Linked DNA regions of Homo sapiens: region 1 is linked to region 2. A link means that fine-mapping ties the variant in region 2 to the expression of a gene that starts in the linked region. Tissue or cell type: breast. Region 2 holds a variant in brackets; the other region holds the start of a gene. All regions are shown on one strand. Distances are between the middles of the regions. Region 1 holds the start of GAL (galanin and GMAP prepropeptide). Region 2 has its middle 42 kb from the start of ALDH3B2.

Evidence for each region. PIP is the estimated chance that this variant, and not a neighbour inherited with it, causes the effect.
Region 1: GAL starts here. The variant in region 2 is the best candidate, but not a certain one, in a credible set for the expression of GAL in breast (GTEx, PIP 0.51).

Annotation. Positions count from the first base shown.
Region 1 is chr11:68,681,894-68,686,274 of GRCh38, reverse strand. GAL (galanin and GMAP prepropeptide) reads right to left here and starts at 1,731. Exons shown (of 6, transcript NM_015973.5): 1 at 1,543-1,731; 2 at 1,271-1,351; 3 at 627-681. The coding sequence starts at 1,351. All of the region lies in intron 2 of LOC107984343 (a long non-coding RNA gene), which reads left to right. RefSeq lists enhancers at 985-1,660, 2,337-3,012.
Region 2 is chr11:67,714,057-67,718,437 of GRCh38, reverse strand. It overlaps the pseudogene UNC93B5. Among named protein-coding and RNA genes, the nearest start is that of ALDH3B2, 42 kb to the right of the region's middle. RefSeq lists an enhancer at 1-526. The variant A/G (reference allele first, on the strand shown) is at 2,559.

The DNA of each region.
Region 1 (4,381 bases), 970 kb before region 2:
AAGTAGAGGCCTGGGACAGGGGCGGGGGCGGACACGGGGAGGTGTCAGCCTGCAGTGTCCCATCTAGGGCTAGGGCTCACCTCAGGCAGCAGGGGACACCGCTGACACAGGTGACAACAACAGGACAGGGAGAGGGAGGGGACACAGGCTTGGGCAGGCAGGGTCACCTGAACCTTGTTTTGAGGGGAGCCTGTCTGGGCTGCCTTCAGGCGATCTGGCAATTCCCGTGTGGAGCTTGGAGAAAGGGAAGAGGGAGGCAGGATTTGGGGTCCGCTGACCTAGGGTGCTCTGCAAGCCGAGGAGTTGAGTGTTTTGGGAGACCCGGGGGCCTGGGGAGAGGCCCAGAACAGGGCCTGTAAGGACTGCAAGGCGGGAAAGCCCAGGAGAACTTGAGCAAAGCCCAGGGTGGGAATCTCACCCCGGGACAGGGCGGCAGAGCCGGGGCAGGAGAAGCTTCTGGAAAGAACCGTACACAGATCAAGTGTGCAGAGCAATGGAGACGGGCAATGAGGTCAAGAGGGAGGCCAGAGGGTCTGCCCAGCCGCAGGCGGAGGGGCAGGAGCCAGGGTTCAAAGCGAGGGGCAGGTGGGGTCAGGAGTGGGGAGGCCATGCTGTCAGTCACTTACGTGGGCCCAGCAGGTAGCCCGCGCTGTTCAGGGTCCAGCCTCGTTTTTCCTTGGCCTTGAAGGGAGAAAAGGGGATCAGATGCCAGGGCTGTGCCTGGAGCCTATGCTGAATGGGTGCACCCAGGCTTTCCCGGCATGGCAGAGGACTTAGAACAATGCATGTGCTTTTGGATAGCTCGCGAAATTCCAGGTTTACCCCTAAGTCGGCTATATTTGACATGAAAATGGAACCACTTTATTTACGAAATACTTCACTTGAGGGCCTGAGCCCGCGCACTCTCAGCGCACTGCACCTGCTTTAGTGACGCTGAGGCCACGCCAGTGGCTCCTAGCCCTCCATTCTAACTAAGCCCTGCGGAACGGGCGAGCTTCTCGCTTTCCCGAGGCGCTGACCCGAAGCGCAGAGCTCTCCCGGCGGCCTGGTTATAGCCCGGGGCTGTTGATACACTCGGAGAAGCGCGCGGGGGGAATCCCAGGGAGCCCCGGACCCTTCCCGCGACGCCCGCAGCCAGGACAGCGCCCGCCTTTCCACTTTCCACCCCCATCCCCGCGGGCAGGGCGGAGGCTGCCTCCTCCAGGAAGCCCTCCACGCCCGGCCGGCTCTGATGTCCCCTTCGCTCGGAGGAGACGCGCCCCGCACTTACCGGCGACCAGAGCCCCGCAGAGGCAGAAAGGGCCGCGGCGAGGAGGAGGGAGGCGAGCAGGAGGGCGCTGCCTCGGGCCATCTGGAAGGGAAGGACAGGGCGGGCGGGTCGGAACCCGGAGTGGGCTGCGCCCCGAGGCAAGGAGTGCCGGGGCTGCGGGGAGGAGCAGAGGCGGCGGCCGGGCCAGGGCCCTGGCAGAACCGTCCCTGGGCAGAGGAAAGCCGAAGGGGAGGCCTCCCGGGGGCGCAGGGTCGGCCCGGCGCCAGTAGTACCTTGAGCTGCGGCTGCGCCCGGGTTCGGAGCGTCGGGGTCCGGGTGCGGTGGCGGGTCTGGGCGGCAGGTCCGGGCGTCGGGCCGGGTCGGGTGGGCTCTGGCGGCCTGGGGCGCTCACCGCATGGCGCGGCCGGCAGCAGGGGCAGAAGGCGCGGGCCGGGTCCCTCCACGTGTCCGCCGCCCGGTGTGGCCGCCGCCACCGCCGCCGCTGCTATATATGCGGCGCACCCGGGAGCCGCCCGGAGTCGCGTCACCGGCTCAGCGCCCGCCTCCTGCACCCTCGCCGAGCCCCGAGGGCGACGGGAGTGACCCGAGCTCGGGTCCTCTGGGCCATCATAGGCGGGTGCGGCGGAGAGCCCCCCCTCATCCCGCGGGAGAGACTCCCCCAAATCTGCAGAGAGAACCCCAAACCCTGTGGGAGAGACCCTAATCCCGAAAGACAGAGCCCAATCGCCCCGCGGGAGAGCCCCCAGACCCGTGGCCCAAGTCATCGCTGTGGCGTCAACCCCACTGCTCCCCCCGGGGTCCCAGCCCCAGAGCAAGCCTGACCCCCCACAACGTCCCACGCCTGCGGTCTCCCTGCAGCTTCTCCTCCCAGCCCCTACCGCTGCAAAAGCCAGCTGAGCTCCGCAGCACTGGAGACCCCAGAGGGTGACGGGCAGGGACGACTCCTCAGTCCGAGCCAGCCCCAGCTGGGAGGTCATGGGGTACCCGGGGAATGGCGGGCAACACTTGGCCCTGCGCCCTGGCCGGCTTGTGCTGGGGCTGGAGCGAAGGTTCAGGCCTCGGGAGCCGTCGATGGCGGGGAGGGCAGGCGTTCCCGGCTCCCTGTGCCCAGCGACCTCCCTCCTGTTTCACTAAAGGGGGGCTGTGGATCTCAGGGTCTGCTTGGCCATCCCATTGTGGGAGCTGCGGGACCGTCGAGCATCCACAGGCACCAGCTCAGAAGCTCGGCCTCTCAGTGCCTCCCCTGGCTGCCTGGTCCAGTTGTAAGAGGGAGCTTTAAGCAGGTCCAGCCATTGGGCAACTGGTTAGGTCCAGAGGGAGAGCAGCCCAGACTCCCAGAGGCCGCCAAGGGGTGGGCGGTGGGCAGAGCAGCAGCAAGAGGCTGTCCTTGTGCCCAAGGCAAAGACATCCCACAGGAACAAGGCCCTCCTTGGCTCCTCCACAAACCCTTCCTGAGCTGGGGCCAAGTCCCGAAACAACCCAGGAGAGAACCCAAGCCTAGGCTGTTCCTTCACCCCATTCCCAGGCATCAGGGGAGCACAGGATCCCAGGCATCACACTTGTACAGTGTGGCACCTCCGGGCTTCCGAAGAGCACGGGGTCATCTGCTGAAAACTCGCCTGACCTCCCCTCCCACTGGCCAGACACCACCCAAGTCCTCAACAGCAGCAGCTGGGTTAGGATCTCCCCACCCACTGGGCTCAATATCAGATGGGTTGATGTCACATCTGTGGGTTGATGTCCACAGGGCACAGGACGAATGATGATCATGACAGTGTCATCTTACCTGTCCTCTACACTTTAGTCTTGGGAACCTTTGCACAGACAGCTACAGGCTGCCCCCAGGAGAGATCCGTCTGCCTCCACGTGGCTGGGGAAGGACAACTGGGCTTTCAAGAACTCTGGCGAAGGCCAGCGGCTGCTGGAGAAGGTGCAGGGCTGCAGCCTGGTGGCTGAGTGTCTGCTGTGGTTTATGGGAGGAAGAGGAGGAGACAGGACTTGGGGAGGGGTCTTAGGAACAGACTCCTGGCACGACAGTGGTGAGGGGTGGGGTGTTCCCAAGGGCACAGTTTGACTTCTGGTCATCCCTATTTCTTGCAGCCTGGGGAGAGGAGAGTCAGGCACAGGGGACCCTAACTAGGACTCACAGGCTGATTTCGGAGCCCACAGTAAACCCTGAAGTGGTTTCCTGCCGGGAGTGGGGGCGTGGGAGACAGTGAGTCGCCATGAGAGTCTGGGCCAGCCGTGGGCAGAAGGACAGCCGAGAGGCGGAGGAGCAGAGGGCACGTTCCTGTGACTCTGCAGAGAAGTGACAATGATGTCCTCTCATGCCCCATGTCCTTGTGTCTAGATGACATCAGGGAGTGGGCAGGGGCTGGGCTCATGGGTGCCTCTTGGCTACCTGAGAAATACTGCAACCTTTGGCCCCCGGTGGTAGTGGGAGCCCTGCTACCATCCCAGAGCTCTTTCTTGCTTTCTGCTGAGAACAAATCCAGCCCAGTGCATAGCACATCTTAGTCAATTCCAGCCTTCTCCTTTCTTCCACGTTAGGCCCCCTTCCAAATCCTGCCAGAGCTTGACTACACTTATTTTCTCTATTTACTTTGTCACAGAGGCTCTTAGTCTGTTTAAAGGAGCACAAACTCTAAACCTAAATCCTTGAGATGGATTCGAAAAGAGACTCAAAGTCCATCCCTTAGTCATGGGCTGGAATTTGAGGTACATTAAACTTTCAGCTGTCTTCATTTGGGCCTATGTACTCTTTTTGTTTCCTTTTTTGCTTTCAAAGAAACTTCAGACTGGGCGCAGTGGCTCACGCTTGTAATCCCAGCATTTTGGGAGGCTGAGGTGAGTAGATAGATCACTTGAGCCCTGGAGTCCAAGACCAGCTGGGGCAACATAGCAAGGCCTCATCTCTACTAAAAATAAATAAATAAATATTTTTTAAAAATCAGCCAAGCATGATGGCACGTGCCTGTAGTCCCAGCTACTCAGCTCAGGAGGCTGAGGTGGGAGGATCACCTGAGCCCAGGAGGTTGAGGCTACAGTGAGCCACGATCAAGCCTGCACTCCAGCATAGGCAACAGAGCAAGTCTCTGTCAAGAAAGAAAG
Region 2 (4,381 bases):
ATTAAAAATACAAAAATTAGCTGGGCGTGGTGGCGCACGCCTGTAATCCCAGCTACTCCAGAGACTGAGACACAAGAATCGCTTGAACCCACGATGTGGAGGTTGCAGTGAGGCGACATCACGCCACTGCACTCCAGCCGGGGTGACAGAAAAAGACTCTGTTTCCAAAACAATAAAACACAGTTTGATTCCACTTATCTATCAAGTGTCTAGAGTAGTTAAATTCATAGAGTTGCAAACTAGAAAGGTGGCCTCCAGGGGTGGGCGAGAGAGAGGAGTGGAGAGCTTGGTGAATGGGTGCAATTTACATTTTGAAAGATAAAACTGTGTTGGAGACGATGGCAGTGATGGTTGGTAAACAATGTGAACGTACTTAATGTCATGAAACTGTAAACTGAAAAAGCATGGAAATTATAAATGTTTATACCGGCCATTCTATATGAACTAATATATATTTATAATTTTAAATATTTATGCGTGGTATATTTTCCCTTAATAAAAGATGAAAATTAAAGCAGTTGGATGTTTAAAAAGAAAAGAAAGAAGCAAAGAATACACACCAGCTTTCTCCTGATTAGAGGAAGAGCCCCAAAGCTTCTATGGACACTCACTTTTCTCTTCTTCTTGCATTATTATGAGGAAATCCTTAGAGGTTGGGGAACTTGGGTGACTTTGTCTAATAAGGAGCTCTGTGCCTTGAGCCCCCCAGGCCACAGAATAGTAAATAGTCAGTCTGTGCCTCCAGCCCTACAGTGTGAGGTTCCAGTCCTGTGGGCTCCACTTCCGTCACCTGTATCAGGAGGCTCACATCTCACCCTGTCTTCTTGCCAGCCTTGAGGATGGAGTCTGAGCCTCCATGGTGCACCACAGAAGGAGGACACTGGACCTGTTCTCCGTGGTCATGGCCCAGCAGAGGGGAAGGGCAGTTCAGTGAGTGTAGGGAAAAGAAAGAGAGATCAGACTCTTACTGTGTCTATGTAGAAAGGAAAGACATAAGAGACTCCATTTTGAGAAAGACCTGTACTTTCAACAATTTCTTTGCTGAGATGTTGTTAATGTGTAGCTTTGCCCCAGCCACTTCGACCCAACCTGAAGCTCACAAAAACATGTGTTGTATGAAATCAAGGTTTAAGGGATCTAGGGCTGTGCAGGACGTGCCTTGTTAACAAGATGTTTCCAAGCAGTATACTTGGTAAAAGTCATTGCCATTCTCTAGTCTCAATAAACCAGGGGCACAATACACTGTGGAAAGCCGCAGGGAGCCCTGCCCTTGAAAGCGGCGTATTGTCCAAGGTTTCTCCCCATAGTTAGTCTGAAAAGTGGCCTCGTGGGAGGAGAAAGACCTGACCGTCCACGAGCCTGACACCAGTAAAGGGTCTGTGCTGAGGTGGATTAGTCAAAGAGGAAATCCTCTTGCAGTTGAGAGAGAGGAAGGCCGCTGTCTCCTGCCTGCCCCTGGGAACTGAATGTCTCGGTATAAAACCCGATTGTACATTTGCTCAATTCTGAGATGGGGGAAAAACCGCCCTATGGTGGGAGGCGAGACATGTTTGCAGCAATGCTGCCTTGTTATTCTTTACTTCACTGAGATGTTTGGGTGGAGAGAAACATCAATCTGGCTTACGCACACGTCCAGTCATAGTACCTTCCCGTGAACTTCATTATGACATAGATTCTATTGCTCACATCTTCGTTGCTGACCTTCTCCTTATTATCACCCTGCCCTCCTACTACATTCCTTTTTGCTAAAATAATAAAAATAATCATCAATAAAAACTGAGGGAACTCAGAGGCCTGTGCCAGTGCAGGTCCTTGGTATGCTGAGCGCCGGTCCCCTGGGCTCACTGTTGTTTCTCCATACTTTGTCTCTGTGTCTTATTTCTTTTCTCAGTCTCTTCCCACCCAACTAGAAATACCCACAGGTGTGGAGGGACGGACCACCCCTTCAAGTGAGTGCTGAGGGACGGTCGGGAGCCTTGTTTGGTTTCCTCCTCTTCAGGACAAACAGGAGAGTGCGCTGGGCAGATGGGAGGAGACCAATGTGCAAACTATCCGCTCAGCAGAGTGTGGAGTTTCTGTTCCTGGTTGTGCTGGGGGGTCTCAGAAATCTACTTCAAAATTTTGCTACCCTCCCCCACTGGTTGTCCTTTTCATAGACATCTCACCCACCATAGCAGGGAATGAGTCCCTCTAAACTATTCCCTCAGGAATAGTAAGAGCCAGCCCCTCTTCCCCCCCTGGCTCTTAGGACCCCCATCGCAGGGGGGTGAGGCACCCCCCGCGATGCGGGGAGTACGAGTCAGCCCTTCTCCTCCCCTGGCTCTTAGGGCACCTATCGCAGGGGGGTGAGGCACCCCCCGCAATGCGGGGAGGGCTGAGACTGGGGTCTGGGCTGTTCCGGACTTCAACACTCACCCCTTGTCCCCCCGCAGGGCTATGGCGTGTGCTTGGTGGGGCTGGAGCGGCTGGCTTACCTCCTCGTGGCTTACAGCCTGGGCACCTCAGCCGCCTCACTCCTGGGCCTGCTGGGCCTGTGGCTGCCACGCCCGGTGCCCCTC[A/G]TGGCTGGAGCAGGGGTGCACCTGCTCCTCACCTTCATCCTCTTTTTCTGGGCCCCTGTGCCTCGGGTCCTGCAACACATCTGGATCCTCTGTGTGGCAGCTGCCCTTTGGGGTGTGGGCAGCGCCCTGAACAATACTGGACTCAGCAGTGAGTATAGCTGTGGGCACTGGAGGGGGCGGGGCAGGGGGCTTTATGGCTATCTGTGGGTGGTTGGCTAGGCATAGACATCCCAGAGACAGATATGGGGTCCCATGGTCACATAGGGTCCTGTGGACATGGCAGAGGCAGGTGGGGCTTCCTGTGGACACTCCGGGGGTGGGAGGAAAGTCTCATGGACACACTGGGGACAGATGGGTAGGGTGTGGACACCCTGGAGACAGTTGTGGGGGTTCCACGCCATGGACATTCCGTTAATACCCCAGGGCGGGCACAGGGCCGCATCAACACTGGAGGGTCAGTGTGAAATCTCGTGGCTACACGGGGCAGGTGTGGGGCTCTGTGGACACCCCTTAGGGACAGTGTGAAAAACACATCAGGGATTCTCCCTTTTCATACCAGGGGACAGGGCTTACCCTGGCATTGTTTTCGTGACATTTGGAGCAGATATTTTGGTCTCTGCCTCACGGAGCATATGGTAGGAGCAAGTGGCCTGTTGTACATCCACGGCATAGATACAGACATGGGCCTTTGTATAGAGAGGAGCAGGCCTGCAGCCCCAGCCCAGTCTGCTCAGTACCAGAGTCCAGGCCCCAGGTCTGGGCTGCTGGGGAACAGGGCCCTGTTTGCAGAAGGCAGCGGGTGGGCCCATGTTCAGCTCCAGGATGCTCCCTGACCACAGATGGGCACACACAGTGACACACAGCTAGCACACATGGGCAGTCCTGCCGGGCATCCATGTCAGTGTCTGTTCTGATGGGCCGAAGCTGTGAACAGTTTTGAACGTCATCCTTGGGGGTGTGGAGTGGCCGAGGTCATGCCTGCTGCTGGCAGGGCAGAGGCTGGCTCGGTGTCTCTGTCTGTAGCAGGGGCTGGAGCCTCATACTGCACCACAGTCTCTTGGCCGTTTTGCTCAAGGATAGCCAATTCTGGGCAGAGTCCAACCTGGGCATCTTGAACCCATGTTGTGCCCTGTCTGGTCATGGCATCTCCTCTGCCCAGCTGGTGAACCCCGGGGGATCCTTGTCTCTTCATAGCAGCACTGTGGGGGTAAAGTCACCCTGCAGGGCCCCAAGACAGGAGTGTTCATGTCCTGAGTGCCTGGTGAAGGTGTTAATAGTGGCCCCTATGATTTGGCAGGTGCCATGCCCTCTTTCTCACTTTAGAACTTCAGAACACAGCACACAATAGGCATAAGCTCATCTCACCATTGGGAAAAGCAGCTCTGGGGAGTTAAGTACCCAAATCACCCACAGAGCCAACATTACAGTCCTGAGAACGAGTGTGCATCTTCTGACTCCCAATCCATTACTCTTGTTGTCCACCCTGGGAGGACTCACTGGAAAGGAAGCCCCCCTCTCCATGCTTAGCTTCAGGTTTGATTTGCAGAGTTGGCAGCTGCAAACAGTTCGATCCCTCTAGTCCCGGCTGAGAAGGAGAAACAGCGCCTGCAAGCTTGGCACTGCACACCTGGGGTTGGGGACAGGACATGACTAAGCACAGAGCTTTCTTCTTTTGAGGCCACGCATGTGGTGCGGAGCGGGACCACCTGCATCCACACAGCCCGGCGCACCTGCTCCTACTTCTGCTTAGCGTGTGAGCAGTGTGGTGACCAGGGTCTCCACCAGGGGGCAGGCCAGGACCGCCTCACAGCACTTTCTAGGCG